Linked DNA regions of Homo sapiens: region 1 is linked to region 2. The links come from fine-mapping of genetic effects on gene expression. A gene starts in region 2. The other region holds a variant in brackets. All regions are shown on one strand. Distances are from middle to middle.

Evidence for each region. PIP is the estimated chance that this variant, and not a neighbour inherited with it, causes the effect. A credible set is the group of variants that fine-mapping cannot tell apart.
Region 1: its variant is the best candidate, but not a certain one, in a credible set for the expression of TSPYL5 in whole blood (INTERVAL, PIP 0.80).

Annotation. Positions count from the first base shown.
Region 1 is chr8:97,466,286-97,474,622 of GRCh38, reverse strand. No RefSeq gene overlaps it. Among named protein-coding and RNA genes, the nearest start is that of SNORD3H, 110 kb to the right of the region's middle. The variant A/G (reference allele first, on the strand shown) is at 3,429.
Region 2 is chr8:97,273,722-97,282,058 of GRCh38, reverse strand. TSPYL5 (TSPY like 5) reads left to right here and starts at 4,131. Exons shown (of 1, transcript NM_033512.3): 1 at 4,131-8,337. The coding sequence starts at 4,215. The coding sequence ends at 5,468. All of the region lies in intron 2 of LOC101927066 (a long non-coding RNA gene), which reads left to right. RefSeq lists an enhancer at 4,593-5,094.

The DNA of each region.
Region 1 (8,337 bases), 190 kb before region 2:
TATCCCCTTTCCTCTGGTGATTCCTCGGTGAAACCTGAGGTCACTTGTCACCCAGGCACTGGGGAGAAGTAGAAAAGTCTAGACTCGTCTTTCCCTTTGGGTAATAAATTTTCAGTATTTGAAAATTCCCATTAAAAAAGCATGAGGTTTATTTCAGTTCCAAATCACATCTTAGTATAATTTATAGTTTAATATCTAAGCTATTTCACTATTTTCTTCAAAAAATATAAAAAGGAGGAGGGTGGCACCAAAAGGTAGTAGATGGTAACAAGAAAACTAGCAGGCAAAATGTGATTTTCAATGCCTCTATCATTCAGGAGAACTTTAAAAGGAGGAAGGACATCAATGCAATATAAAAGCAGAGAAATGGATTTGTTTCTGATTTAAAAAACACATTCCTGGGACAATGCATCATCTCTATGTGGCAGTTTTCTGCCTGAGGGGGCACGTTGAATCCTAAAAGGTTTATACCAAAAAAAAAAAAAATCTAATAACTCCAAGTCACATGCTAGCAGTGGGATTGTAACATATCAGTGAAACATAATCGTTGCAGGGAGCGAAAAGAACTTCAGCTTTGAATCTGACAGACCTGAGTTTGAATTTACTAGTTGTGATATCATAAGAAAGTATTTTAAACCCTTAAGGCTTCAGTTTTCTCATCTGTGAAAGGGAATTAAAATTTGTCATGTAGAGTTGTTGCAGGAGTTGAATTAGAGAACATATGGAAATTAACTAGTTGTGTGCCTGGTACATAGCAAGTGCTCAATTAAAGATAATTTAAGAATTGTATCTAATGAAATTCTGGGAATTTTGGCAATTCTTTGACTTCATCATATAACTTCTGTCATATCATCAACTTCCAAGGCACATGTGATTAAAGAAAAATACAAATTGGAGTTCCACTGCTAAAGCTTCTGCATTTTATTCTTAGATAATGGTCTAGGTATAATGTTGTGTGTGACTGCTCCCCATTTCTTGGTTTGTCTACAACCTCAACTCATGAAGAGTATGGGCACAGGAGAAACATATGTCATAAGCGAAGAGTAAGAGAGGGCAGGGAAGATTGGGGTGCAAATAGCTCTTGGACTGTAACTTGTAAAATACTCTACCTGTGGAGGCTGCTTGATATAGAGGAAGGGTCATGGGCTTGGAGTTTGACGAGTGTGGGTTTAAATCCTTACCCTGACATATATAACCAGTTGTGTAAACTGGACAAATTTCATTACTCTGAGCTGCAATAAAGCATTAAGTATAAACATTAAATATAGGGTTGATGTGAAGATTAAATGAAATGCTCTGTATAAAGTTCCTGGTGTACTATTGTATGCTCACAGTAAATGACACAGGAATTAGCAACTCTTGAAAACAGCTTTGAATACTGTTGGGTCAGTAAGTTTAGGCTACGATTAACTTGCTTGAGGCAGAGAACAATAAAAAAGAATATAGAGGAGGGAGAATAAAAGCAGATGGATAAGGAGAGGGAAACAAATGGAGGAAAAAAATGAGAACGATAAAGGAAAAAGATGAAGAAATTATTAAGGAAAGCTTTCTATAGGACAGGAACAGAGAAAGAGAACTTTGAGCTGATGTCAAAATGTAACCACTATGATTTATACGTACAAAAAAATTAGTTGAGCTCATATTGTTCTGACCAAAAATTTCAACTGATGTAGGAAAAAAGTCACCTTAAATTTGCTTAAATCTAGTAACTGGGGTTTTCCGGTATAACATAGTCCTTTGTGAGTAAATATGTAGTTAACAGAAAGCACAAGCTTCCTAGAGGGCCTCTTTCAGCTCCTCAAGGTGTTTTCCCTTTTTCCTTCTCAAGATGGTGAGGCTGATATCTCATGGGCTGCAAGAACCGGGGCCTGTGGCTCGAGACCCTCGCCTTCTGGTGCCGAGAATCTTCCCGGCCCTGTTGGGTCATAGGACATCTGATACTGATGTTGCTGAAGGATGGCTCCTGCCTGTTAGTGGAAGTAAATGGTCCCTGCCCAAGCCTTTGGGGGATTAGCACCACAGTCTGCAGTCTTCCTGCCTTGCTTCCACGACGATTCCAGCTCTTTGAGTTATCACTTCCGCCGGACCCCACTGGGCTTCTGAATCCCTTCACACCAAGCGCAGCCATGGGTAATCGGAAGTGGAACTGTTCACCCAGGCCCTTCTATCCTTGCTGCTGCCTATTCTACTGCTCCAGAGCTTGTTAATGGTGGTGCCAGAGTGAGTGTGGAACTTCTCCCAGAGGCTTTGTCCGGCAAACTGGATATTCTTTAATCCCTTCCAGCCCATCTTGTGCTGAGATTCTGACTCCTTTCTCAGGGACTTCAGTAACGTAGTTATCTTAATCTGATCTCTTGTGACTGGTCCTCAAGATTTTTGGCTTGAAGGCCCCTTTATACTCTTAAAAATTATTGAAACTGCAAAGAATTTCCGCTTAAATGGGTTATTTCTATTAATATTAACCACATTAGAAATTAAAACTGTTACTGATTTATTTAAAAATAAAAAATCTCATTACTTATTAACATAAATTACATTTTTAATGAATAACTATATTTCTGAAACAAAACAATTAGTGAGAAAAGTAGCATCATTTTACATTTTTTGGAAACCTCTTTTATGTTTGGCTTCACAGAAGACAGTGTCTGTTTCAGCATATATCTAATGGAAGATATATGCTTCAACATTTAAACTGTTAATGATAATCATATGTAGCCTCTGGAAAACTCCACTGTACCTTCCTGAAGTAGACACAGTGTAAAAAGCAAATAATGTCTTAGTAGAATCATGAAAATAGTTTTGGCCTTATGCAGCGCCTGAGAGGATCTTGGGACTCACAGGAGAATCCAGACCACTTTGAGAGCTGCTGCCCTAAAACTTTCTCCCTGCCCTACCAAAAGGTTTTCCACATTCCTTTCCTGTCTGATGAGAACCGCTCTTTAGTCATATCCCCCTTCTTCCCTACTGGCATGCTCCCTTGCCTTCCCTGGGCTGTAGGGAAGGAAGTTGGTGAGGAAGATTAATTGAAAGGAGAGGATGGCTGAAAGTGAAATGTTTTTAGGGCAGGGAATAGCAGAATGTTCCCCATTAATTGATGAGTGGGGCATATGAATGTTCCACTATGCCTAGCCTGCCTAGCAAATACTATGTTCTTTCAGCCACGTTTATCATGCCTCTTTAACTCATGAGACCAGCTCACTTTCTTGATGGCCAGTTCACTAGTTTGTCATCATCTTGCTTTGGGGAACCAAGGCAGAAAAAGGTCTATGTTTCCTTTTGCATAATGATAAACATGTGTCACATACTGTGTCTAATAACCAAGATCTATAAACTCAATCCAGGGTGATAAAGCTAAATGATTTTTTTCAGTGTCTTTCATGCCAGTCCTCCTTCCCCACAACATCATCAATCAATCAAATTGCTCTTGT[A/G]GTTTGTTATGTTGCTATGGCAACATCTTCCTGCACAGTTAAAAATAAAACTTATGTGCTCCTCCTGAAATTTGGAGAGAGCAAGAATCTAATTGCCTGGCAGTCCTCACCATGGGAAAACTGATACCTTGGCAAAGGCTATCCAGCCACTTTGTACTGGAGAGTGGAGATGAAAAGCAGCCACCGAGTTCTGTCTCTGTCTCTTGGGATACTACCCATGAAAAAGTGAGGCTACCTTTTGCACAGCTGCATTGGTGTTTTTCATTCCCAGTTCTTAGGCTCGACATCTTGACAGACATCTCTGCAGTTTGGCAAATCTGTGGGGAAGAGAGCAAAAAAATATCAACGCAGAAGGCTGCTTGGGAGTTTTAACTGCTCTCATGGACACTTTAGATTGCTTAATAAGAAAAAGATGTCTGCAGAGATTTGGGTTGTCTCATAGACAGACCCTGAGACAAGGATTCAAGGCAAGTAGTTTATTTAAGAGGTGCAGGGAACATTAGGGGTGGGAGTGGAAAAGTAATATTGAGAAGAAAAGACAGCCAATAAGGGTGTGTTATTAACTCAGCAACTACTGTGGGTGACTAGGGCTTAATTCTGCAGGAAATCCCTGAGAAGTCGGGTAAAACACTTGTCTTTGAATTCTATCTGAAGAGTGAGGGAGCTGGGGTATTTATACACTGACTCCCAAAAGTCTTTGGTTGAAGGCTATTCCCAAGGGTAGGGTATTTCTTCCTAGCACTTTTGTTCTGCCACTTGGTGGGGAGCAACACTTTGGTTCTATAAAAAACCTGCAGGAACAGAGATGCAGATACCTGCAGTGAGAAGGCTGTGGATAAAGAGTAAAAGTGGGACATTGATAGTGTCAACTACGGGTGCTTAGATTGGGGATTTTATTTTGGGAAGGTAAAGAAATTGTGTTGACACAAGCTTTTAAGAACCTAGCAGCAATAATAGTGAGTGTGAAAATAATAAAAGAACAGAAGGTGTTTAAAAAGTAGTTTTGTTGTTGTTTTAATTAATTTGTCTTTGTATTTATTTATTTTAAGACAGGGTCTCACTCTGTTGCCTGGGCTGGAGCGCAGTGGCATGATCATGGCTCACTGCACCCTCAACCTCCTGGGCTCAAGTGATCCTCCCACCTCAGTCTCCCTAGTAGTTGGGGCTACAGGTGTGTGTCATCATGCCCAGCTAATTTTTATATTTTTTTGTAGAGATGCGGTCTTGCCATGTTGTCCAGGCTGATCTCAAATTCCTGGGCTCAAGCGATCCTCCTGTCTCGGCCTCCCAAAGTGCTGGGATTATAGGTGTGAGCCACCACACCCAGCCAATTTAAAATACCTATTTTAAAAATATAGGTATTTTCCTCCAGGATGCCAGATCTTTGAATGGATGTTTACATCTTCACTATCATAAAATGGCTTCTTCATCCTCCACTGAGCCCTTGGAACTCTAGTTCTTCAAATCCATGCACTTCAGTCCCAAATAGCTTCATGTTACCATATTAATGCAAACTACCTTCTGTATGTTTTGCTTTTTGATTTTGCTTCTTTAAAACTTTTCTAAAGATGACTCCCAAGTACAGTATCTTTGAATAAAGTGACTGGAGTAACTAAAAGAAGATAACCCAGAAGGAGTGTTAGTAATAACTCACAGTTATTGAGTGCCTGCTGTATGCTAGGCACTGTACTAACTGATCTCCATAAATCATTTTGTTTGAAAGTCATAATCACTCACTTGGAAAGGTACTATAACCGTCCCCATTTTACAGATGAGGAAATGAAGATGCAGAAACTTGTTCAAGTTTCCACATCTAGCAGATTTAGGAGCCAGCATTTAAATCCAGGCTGTCTGTTCCCAGAAAATGTCTTTAGTCAACTTTATTATCTTTTATTTTACTTTCATTAGTACTTTGAAATCAAAATTGTTACTTGGGATTGACATTTTTCAATATTTAGATGGACTGTAACACAAAATATATTGGATTATCTAGGACTAACCCATCTGCAGTTAACCAACCCTGGTCCTGGCCAGGAAGCCATGCTGCTTAAAATCAGATATTCAAGAGACTTGTACTATCATTCTTTTTCCCCATAAAGACAGAAAACTGGTAATATTTGTCCTTAAATATTTATCTCAGGTTAAATCTGTTTCTTTTGTACTTCATGGTGAAAACTCAGGGGCTTCAATTGATTTCAGTTTTTCCAGGCTCCTAAGAGGATGCTGCTGGAGAACAATTTTGCCTCTGGCTAAACAGAGCCCCAAAAGATTGATTTAGCTAATCTCTAGTAAAGGTGAAAAGCTCTTTCCATAGATAAAATAATATATTTTAATTTATCTGCTTTGGGTGCAAAAAAAGTGACTTAGACAAATTACTTTAGGTAATTCACCATTTACTTGAAGGGTACATACACAGAGAAAGCTAGGAAAAACTGAAGAACCAGACAGGAAAGGGCAGGACCCATAGAGTGGAGAGAAGCAGAATGATCTGAATTCTAGAGCTTGGAAATGCACGTGGGTCAGCCCCCTCTGGAAAACACCCTTGGATCCTTTTTGCTCAGATTTCTCATCTTTATCTCCATGCACTCATCTGCCTCAAATCTTCTGCTTCTCATAGCTTCTGTCCCAATCTCAGTATTTTTTGTTTGTTTGTTTGTTTGTTTAAATGATGAAGAGAGCCAATCAGAATGGACAAGTTTATGTTTTCAAGCCAAGCCATGTGATGGGGCTCAAGACATGCTACCCCAAAATATGGCAGCTTGTCATTTGAGGAACAGAAGAAGCAGGGAGGTCACTCTCACCTTTTCCTTGCTCCTCTTCCCTTGAATCAGGCCATAAAACCCAGCTAAACTTTCCCTGAAAGAGGTCATAAAATTATCATTCCAGAAGTGCCTGTCCTATACCTAAAGGAAAACAACATCCTTATCTCCGAAGACACGGACCCAGAGAAGTATCTGAACAGCCTTGCTAAGTTTCCCCCAGTTTATTGCTATTAGATCATATCCTATTATCCTTCGATCTTACCTCTCCTCAACCATCTACTCTTCATCAAACGTAAGCATACAAATACATATTTCCCTATTTCTTTGGGTCTTCATTTCTGAAGGTGCCGGAGCCACATAAAACATCTATTAGATAAATGTGTGTGCTTTTCTCTTGTTAACCTGTCTTTTATGATAGGAGCCTCAGCCATGAACCTTGTGATGGATAAGTAAAAGATACTGCTTTTTCTCCCCTACACATATCATGGGCCTAATTGGCCTATGGCTTATTGGCCTTTAAGTTAGGTGACTGCCCCTGTCCAGTTAGCTTTGGCTAGGTACATGTGGTACAACCCCTTCAGCAAAGATGTCTGCAAGGGCTCTGGGCAGGGCAAGTATCATGATTGAGATCCACTGTGCTGCTTTTTGATTATCTTAACCAAGTGGCATCTGGCTCTTTGCACTTCTGTTATCAAAAGCATGCAGGTCTGATTTTAGGTGTTGACCAGAAAATAGACACACTCAAGGGAGCTCAGTCTTTAGTTGTCTGTTAAAGACACAGCCACAGTGTTTTATACTTGACTAAGGTTATCTAACAGAACTTCTAATAATCTAATCTTTTAGATTTTCCAGGCTATATCTCCTCATCAAATTACAGCTCCAGAAAAATCACATACCTGGACTATATTAGTTTATTTCTCTGGAGAACAACCTTCATAAAATGATTATTTAATATGATCCCCTTGAGGTTATATGAAATGTTCATATGAAAAAAAGTTTGCTTCCCTAAAATTGCCTTAAAAGTTGCCTATTGTTGTTTAGTGTTCTTTATATAAGGATTCATACAATAATTTTCTCTTAGATTTTAGTACAAAAGAAAAAGCTTTGTTTCTGTTTTAATAAGTGAGAGTTATAATGTTCACCAAATTTCCTGTTTGCCACTGAAAAATCTAAAACAAGATTTAGGACTCATTTATAGTAACTCCCCTTAGCCTGGGCTTCTAGTATAATAATCTTCCTCTTCTCAAGTACATACTTATGATATTTTCTCCTTATTTTATTTATTTATTTGTGAGACAGGGTCTTGCTGTGTTGTCCAGGCTGGAGTACAGTGGCACAAACATGGCTCACCACAGCCTCTACTTCCTGGACTCAAGCAATCCTCCTGCCTCAGTCTCCTGAGTAGCTGGGAGTACAGGCTGGCACCACTATGCCTGGCTAATTTTTTTATTTTTTGCTCCCCAGGCTGATCTTGAATGCCTGGGCTCAAGTGATCCTCCTGCCTCAGCCTCCCAAAGTGTTGGGATTACACACATGATCCAACAAGCCCAGCTGATATTTTATCCATATTTTAATGATTGAGAAGTATATATGTTTATTGTCTCAACCACCTCAGGTGCTTTTTTCAAGTAGCTAGAATACAAATAACAAATATGGTTCAATATATAATATTCTCATTTCATAGGGAAAATGCTAATGATTTTAGAAAAATATTTGGTGTTTTAGGGGGTCTCCAGACCAATGACTTTTTATACTCAACATATAGTAAATGAGATATTAGTTACCACTGTGCTTGTGCTACTAAGAAAATGTCATCAGGGCCCTTGGAGCAATCTGATGATGTATTTTTGTTGTAGAAAATTTGAATTCAATAGAGTTTGCACAAAGATTTTTGTTGAAAGGGGAAGGGCTGAGCTTGATGGCCACTAGTGAAGAATTATTCATTTCGATAAAGGAATCAAAGAAAACTTGATAGTAACTGGCTTTTTATAATTGATGTTTTAAGATGCTAGAGGCTTTTGCTAGTTACTTTATTTTTCTTATTTTGTAATTCTTATGTTTGTTCTAGAGTGGGTCCTTTTTTTCTCTTTTTCATCTTTATTGAGGTTTAATTGACAAATAAAATGGTGTATATTTAAGGTGTACAA
Region 2 (8,337 bases):
TCTCCCTCCCTCCTTGACTATGAAAATATTTCTTAGGACACTGCCTTCTTTTCCATACCCTTTGGTAACCTGGGAGGGTTGGTTGGCAAAATTCCACACAGTAAGCAATACTCACTGCTATCTAACAGACTTAAACTTTCTCCTTGGGGAAGAATAGAAAAGTGCTGTGGCTAAAAATGTCAAGTCTGGGATCCTAAAGCTCTACGAGAGAAATGATGGGGAATATTGTTCCCTTGGCTGAGGAATAGGCTGGATGACAAATGTCTTTTTCCCAGCTTGTAAATTTCTGTGATTCAAAGAAAACATATCAAAAGGAACGGAGAAAGCACAATATGCAGAAAACAAAAGTGAAGATTTTTTATTCTAATATTTTGAATTACATACACACAAGTACATATGCATATACATACATATAGACATAATACACATAAACATTTGAAAAATATTTTATGAATTTCTAATAAATATTTGCTAATAAATATTACATTAGAAATAATCAATTAAATGCTTATATTACCATCAACTTAAGCCTGCAGATATTGCAAGAAGTTCACAACACTCCAGGATCTCTGAGTTCATGACAGTAAACTTGCATTTCTTTCATAATATTAACAGGATGCTTATGATAAATGCAGTGCAAATAGAGATGCTTCGTTCTCATCATGGGCTGTTGAAACTAAATTTATGTTGAGTATTGCTATGCCAGGTATATTGTATACCCCATAAATAAATGACTCATAACTAAATGATGTATGTATTATGTGTATATGTATGCATCTGCATATGTGTGTGTATATATATTTTTAATATATATAATTTTTTTAACATTAAAAGGTATTTTTACCCACTGGAGAGAGTTTTAATCTCTTAAGCCATAATTTTACATTATGTATTTTTAATTAAGAGCACGGTGCTGGAGTCGCATCGCTTGGGCAAAAAACATTTATTAACTGTGTGACCTTGGGCAAGTTATGGAACCATTTTGTGTGGCAGTAACCTCCTCCAAGACGAGAACAATAATTGCACCTGCCCCATGGGGTGATTGCAGAGATTAAATGAGTTAAGGCATAGCACTATATAAAAGTATGAAATAAATGTAAACTTTCATTATAATTACTGGTATGTGCAAGGCCCCATGCTAGGTACTCTGAGAGATAAAAGTAAAAAGAGACACAGTCTCCACACTTACACAGTTTACTATCCAATTAGGAACACAAACTACAGTTCCACATAAAGTTAAATATTAAGACCCAAGAAGAAAACACAGTCCAGTTCAGCAGCACAGACCAAACTCTTAAATACAAAAGCCATGGGGAACTGGGTGGCTTAGAGCAGAGGGGTATTTTTTTAAATTATTTCCCTTCATCTGATGCTTATCTCTTTGACATGATGAAAAAAGGCTCAAGGCAGATTGTATAATAAACACATTGCAATGGCCCAGCCCTGTGTTAATCCTACAGTGGTTTAGCCATTGGTGACTGCTACATGACGCAGATGCTGACGCTGGATTAAGACTCTTGACAACAGAGATGGGTTGATCTGTGAGTGTTCTAAGAAGTGGGCCAACCCATCAATGTCTAAAGTCTATAGAGGGTTGGCAAATGCGTCAGATGATTTTTTAATTTTTTTTCTGAGGTTTACGGAGAGTTTCAGGCTGTGATTATCTAGCTTAAGAGGTAATTTTGTAAAAGAACTGGTACAAAACAGGGTGTGCCCCACTGCCAAATGAATACTATAGTTAACAAGTACTCTGTGAGATCAAGGACAAGGCTGCTTATTGTGGTCTGGGGTGATCACAGAAGGCCTTGGGAAGAAATTATTATGAAAGGGCCTTCAACAAGAATTTAAGATAATCCTTGCACTAATTAATCCCTTTTAAGTCAAATATTAAATCTCCCAACTTAATTTTTAAATTTGTCACTCTAAATTCTTACTTACAGACTGTCCCTGAATGGTGCTCTGTAACAAAAGATAATTTTTTGGCTAAATTATGAGTTTAGTAGGTTTCCATGAGTTGATCTGAGAATACAGCATCCATAGCATTGCTTCTGTGGGAAAAGGGGAGCTATTCTGAACTTCAGACAATCATTTACAAACCCATTTTTGAAAACTCTGCTTTGATTGGTTCTTTCTTTCAACAAGTATTTATTAAGTGCTCTTGATATGTCAGACACTGTTGCAGGCACTGAGGATACATCAGTGAACAAAACAAAAATCTCTTCCCTCATGGAGCTGACATTCTAGAGAGAAGAGATAGTTAATAAGCATAATAAATAATTGGTATAGTGTGTTGGAATAAAGAAAAAGTACCATAGGATAAAGGGATGGGGTGGGTGGCAATTCTAAATAGGATGGTCATTGAGAAGGTGACATTTAAGCAAAGTGTGAAGGCAGCTGGCCAAGGCCACCAACCACATTGGGAAAGAGCATTTAAGGTAGAAGGAAGAGCCAGTGCAAAGGCTCTGAGGCAGGAGTTTACCTAGTGAGTTTAAGAACAGCAAGGAAGCCAGTGTAGCTAGAGGTGGGAGAGAGGAGAGAGAAGATGAGGTCAGAGAGGTAACTCATGTAGTGGCAGATAGAAGACTTGCCAGATCATACAGGGCCTTGCAGGCTATTCTAGAGCTTTTGAGAAAATGAGGAATCACTTGTATTAGGCCGGCTTAAAATAGGGCCATCTGTATAAAAATAATTCCTCTTTAAATTGTTTCCTTAAACTTAGGGGTGTATACAAATCACCCAGGATCTTGTTAAAATTCAAATTCTGACTTAGTAGGTCTGGGGAAAGGCCTGAGATTCTGCATCTTTAACAAGCTTTCAGGTGATATCAGGCTGCTGGTCCACAACCACACTTTGAGTAATGAGGTCCCGGGGCTTTTGGGCTTATCTCTCCACTAGCTGGTTACAAGGGCCTTTTTGTTCCCTTTGAGCCTGAAAAGACCACCTCAAAAGGTTTTTCTTTATATTTTTACATTAGCCACAGGTCCCCTCACTGTTCATGGTCCTATTACCTCACTAGTAAGAGCGTGGTCCAGGGCTGCCTCCGGGACTGTGGGGGAGGTTGTCCGGCTGTTTCCATGCACAGTGTAAGAAGTTTCTAGGGCTTCTGCAGTGCCACGTGGAGGCTCTGCTTCTGAACCTCAATCTGCTCCCTGAATAATAATTTCACCTCTCACCACATTCTTGTCTTACTCCAATTACAGGAGCTCTAATACAGGTCTTCACTTCTGGTCCTATACCTAGAGTGATAGTCCAGATCTGTAAACTGAGGCAGCTGGGGGACTCGGGTGATGTTCCCAGGCAGAAGAGGTGGTCAGGTGGTCCACGGAAGCCTGTTTGTTAAGGAGCAAGGCTGATTTCTTAAGAGCCAGCCCAGTAATTGACAGTGGAACAAGTCTGGAAGGACTTGCCATTTCCAAATATAAGGCATAGGATACGGAGTCCCATGGGCTTGAGTTTGAATTGTGCTTCCATCCCTTACTGTGTAACCTGGGGAATGTGCCCGGGTGTCTCTGAGATGCAGTTTTCTTATCTCGAAAATGGGAATGATATCAACACCTCCTTTGTAAATTGAGATAATGCATTTAAAGCACCTAGTAAAGTGCCTGGCACAAATGATACAAAATACTAGTTGCCATTATTTTTATAATTTCTACTATCATCTTACTGCGTACCAAATCGCTTTGACGCCCGGCATTATAGCATCCACCTTTACGTTCTCTGGAGTTAAGGTACCAGAGCAAATCCCTCAGCAAAGGTGTTCAAAGAGAGACACACACGCCCGAGCACTTTCTTCATGACAGATGCCACAAGAGATAACTGGAGGAGCTGAAGATGTTTAGTTTAGAAAACAGGTGATGGGGGACAGGTGGTGATGGCTCTTAGCGTTGCCTTGTTCAACGAGACCCTGAGAGCACGATGAGCCCGCGCGGAAGAGATGAAATGGCAGCACCCCCGCGAGCGCATATCAGAGAAACTCGCCGAGACCTAAAGCGAGTCCGCGCGAGATGGGGGTGGGAGCGCCCGCGGGGGTCGTCTCCTGCGCAGCCGCAGCGGCGGCGCCAATCACCGGGCGCATCACGTCCTCTCGCGACGGTACAGTTGTACGTTCGTGACGTCGGCGGTTGCCGTGGAGAGACCCGCTCGGTCCCGACCGAGAGCTGGCGTCAGGAGCCGCAGGGTCACAGCGTGTCTTTGAAGCTGCCTCCGCCGCCACCATGAGCGGCCGAAGTCGGGGTCGAAAGTCCTCCCGCGCCAAAAACCGGGGCAAAGGCCGCGCCAAAGCCCGAGTCCGCCCTGCTCCGGACGACGCCCCGCGCGACCCGGACCCTTCACAGTACCAGAGTCTCGGGGAAGACACCCAGGCGGCACAGGTGCAGGCTGGCGCGGGGTGGGGTGGCCTGGAAGCCGCTGCGTCCGCGCAGCTCCTCCGGCTCGGGGAGGAGGCCGCCTGCCGGCTCCCCCTGGACTGTGGCCTCGCGCTGCGGGCCCGAGCTGCGGGGGACCACGGGCAGGCCGCGGCCAGGCCCGGCCCGGGGAAGGCCGCATCTCTCTCGGAGCGCCTGGCCGCAGACACTGTCTTCGTGGGAACAGCGGGAACCGTGGGAAGGCCGAAAAATGCCCCCCGCGTTGGAAACCGGCGTGGCCCTGCCGGGAAGAAGGCCCCAGAAACCTGTAGCACCGCGGGGAGGGGGCCTCAGGTCATAGCTGGTGGGAGGCAGAAGAAAGGGGCGGCAGGGGAGAATACCTCGGTGTCAGCTGGGGAGGAAAAGAAGGAAGAGAGGGATGCAGGGTCGGGGCCCCCAGCGACGGAAGGCAGCATGGATACGCTGGAGAACGTGCAGCTGAAGCTGGAGAACATGAACGCCCAGGCGGACAGGGCCTACCTTCGGCTCTCCAGGAAGTTTGGGCAGTTGCGACTGCAGCACTTGGAGCGCAGGAACCACCTCATCCAAAATATCCCGGGCTTCTGGGGGCAAGCATTTCAGAACCATCCCCAGCTAGCATCCTTTCTGAATAGCCAAGAGAAAGAGGTACTGAGCTACTTAAACAGCTTGGAAGTGGAAGAGCTCGGCCTTGCCAGATTGGGCTACAAAATCAAGTTCTACTTCGATCGCAACCCGTATTTCCAAAATAAGGTGCTCATCAAGGAATATGGGTGTGGTCCTTCTGGCCAGGTGGTGTCTCGTTCTACTCCAATCCAGTGGCTCCCAGGGCATGATCTCCAGTCCCTAAGCCAGGGAAACCCAGAAAACAACCGTAGTTTCTTTGGGTGGTTTTCAAACCACAGCTCCATTGAGTCTGACAAGATTGTGGAGATAATCAACGAAGAATTGTGGCCCAATCCCTTGCAGTTCTACCTTTTGAGTGAAGGGGCTCGTGTAGAGAAAGGAAAGGAAAAAGAAGGCAGGCAAGGTCCAGGAAAGCAGCCAATGGAGACTACTCAGCCTGGGGTGAGCCAATCCAACTGATCCTGCACAAGTCTCCCTGCTACCTCCTGCTGGGCTGCTCCTGGTTGACTACATATTTGGCTCTCTGCCTTCTCTTCATGTTGGCCTCTGTGTACTATAGACCCTTTGGACTTTAGTTACAAGAATATGGCATTTATGATCATGTTCTTTTGCCTCCCATAGCCTCTTGCTTTTCTACGTTAGTGTCACATGTTATGTGATCGCACCCGGACTGTTCATATGTTAAGCACACATACTTTAGATGTGTGCTCCCTGTTATCTACATTGCCTGGACCTTGTTCTTGGCTCTGGCCTTTCCTACTTGTCTTTAACATGGACACTCATGAGTCATCCTCCAGGACGACCAGTGCATCCTCAAGCTCTGCTCCTTCAGGGCCAGTGACTTGCTGGGCTTCGTGTTCATGCTGGCCATGCATGTCATCTATGCAAGCGTTTCCATTGCCACTGCAGAATGAAGCCAGTGCACATGGTATTAGTCATCAGCCAGAACTTCCTGTTCTGTGGGTCTGGGGTCACCAGCTGAGATGTCACCTGCTTTATTTCTGGCTTTGGCCTGTGGTCTGTGATACCCATCCTGCTTGATGTTCTGCAGAATGGCACTTGACTGCTGGGCATGCATGAAGTTAAGGGCAAGAAACAGTATGCCATGTGTTCTGTACCATCATGTGTCTCTTCTTGCTTCTGGGCCCTTCTACTGGTGAACTTTCATCAAGATCTGCGCCATGCCGTGTCACTATCAAGCCATTAAGTTTTGTCTGGGTTGCTGTCAGCCCCAGTTGGCTTCCTGGTCAACAAGGACCTCAAGAACTGCCTGTGGACCGAGGCCCCCTACCAGTGCATGAGACACACACCTACCCTCCCCAGCTTTCCAGGAACCCTACTGGCTGCCAGACTGATGGGCGGGCTGGTATGTGTGGACATGTGTTCACTGTCATTATGCTGTGGCTCCAGGTGAGGGTGAGGACTGGGCCTATATAGAATCCAGATACCATTGTCAACTTCCCTTATTCCCGTCTAAGATGTGAGCAGAGTGCCATAGTAGGGGTTCTGGGAAGAGGTATTTCTGATTTGTGGGCCTCTGCTTGCTTGACTTCAGGTCACTTATACTTCTTATTTTGCTTGCCTGCCTTCATCCCTCATTTCCTCCCTCTCATTCTTCTTTCCTCCCTCCCTTTCCTGGTAGCCTCCTTTCCTCCCCTTCTGCCTTCCCCTTCCTTCTTTCCTTATTCTTTTTTATTTTGTTTAAATAGTACCACAGAGAAAACAACTGAAAAACCACATTTTTCTACATACAGCTGGGGAGGTAGCTGAGAACTTGGCACTGCGCACACATACTAGGTTGAAAGAGAGTTGAGGAAACCAGAAGGCCAAGTGGATCTGCTGGCAAACCCTGAACCTGTCTCCTGCGCTTGCTCTACAGTTCTGAAGTTGAAAATCCTTTTCATGCCTAGCATCTGCTTGAGTTATAAACCCCAAGGCAGCCATGTCATAGACTAGTGTTTACTCTTGTTTTGACTTTGTTTTAATGCTTCCTAAGACCCAAGTGCCTCCTGCTGTTTCCTCCTTTGTGGTAGCCTCTGGCCATCTGGACCTCAATCCCCAGCTTTCCCACTTTCAGCAGTCCTTTGCTCTCTTTGCTTCTACCTCAAATAGCCCCAGGAGTGGGCTTTAGTCTCCAATATGGAGCATCTCAAGCTTCTCCTGGGGGATGGGGATTGGGATGGGCAGAATCTGTTTTGGATCTCCGGGTTATTTCCAGTGGGTGTAAAAGCAGAGCTGGGCCTTTCCCTCTCTTATCCCTGAGGGTGGGTAAGAAGGACTGTATCTACACCTGTTCTTCCCTACCTTCTCTTTTGTTAGGGAGGCCTCATTCTAAGTTCCTCAAGAGAGTCCTTGGCTTAAAGCTGTAGCAAGGGTGTGCTAGGTGGGGGATTTGGAGCAAAACCGTCGAGTAGGCATGATACTGGTATGGAGTGGGCCTGCAAAATCAGACAGAAATGGCTTGAGAAGCCGCAGGGGGAGCATGCCTGTCTCTCAGTGATAGAGTATGGGAGGGACCTCCCTAGCTTGGAAAATGAGAATTGAAGGGGTTATGAACAAATAGGATGCCTAGTTGAGGATGTTCCCAAAGTTTTGTCCAATCTTATCATTAGTAGATTTTATAAGCCACAGAGACAAACCAGAAACGGAATAATGTTACTTTGGATGCTTTATTTTTTTGTTCTAGGTGTGGCTTTGTACATGCAGAAGAATGCTATATGCTGCACATTTTGCCTTTAAAGTCTTACGACTTTCCCCATTTTAGTCTAATGGGAAGATACAGATGTGCAAGTCTGCTTTTTTGTTTTTTGTTATTATTTTTTTTTTTTTGCTCTGTGTTATGGACATTTTCAGACATGCACAGAAGTGGAGAGGATGGTCCTTGGACCCCATGTGTCCATCACCTAGCTGCATCACTTATCAGCTATGGTCAACCTGGTTTCATCTGTATCTCTCTCTTTTCACCTGTATTGTTTATTGAAAATCCAAGACACTATGCCAATGCAACCGTGACTACTTTGGGAGATTGGTAGTCTCTTTTGATGGTGATAGTGATGGGGTGCACTATCATAATCACATCAGGTCTGCTTTTTGCTTTTAATGTTAACTAATGAAGTTCCAGAGATGGGCCTTAGAAATGTGTTTTAAGAATTAACAAGGAGTCTCAAAAAGAAATGAGAGGGATGCTTCCTTTCCCTTGCATCTACAAAACAAGAGAGAGACTGTTCTGTTGTAAAACTCTTTCAAAAATTCTGATATGGTAAGGTACTTGAGACCCTTCACCAGAATGTCAATCTTTTTTTCTGTGTAACATGGAAACTTGTGTGAC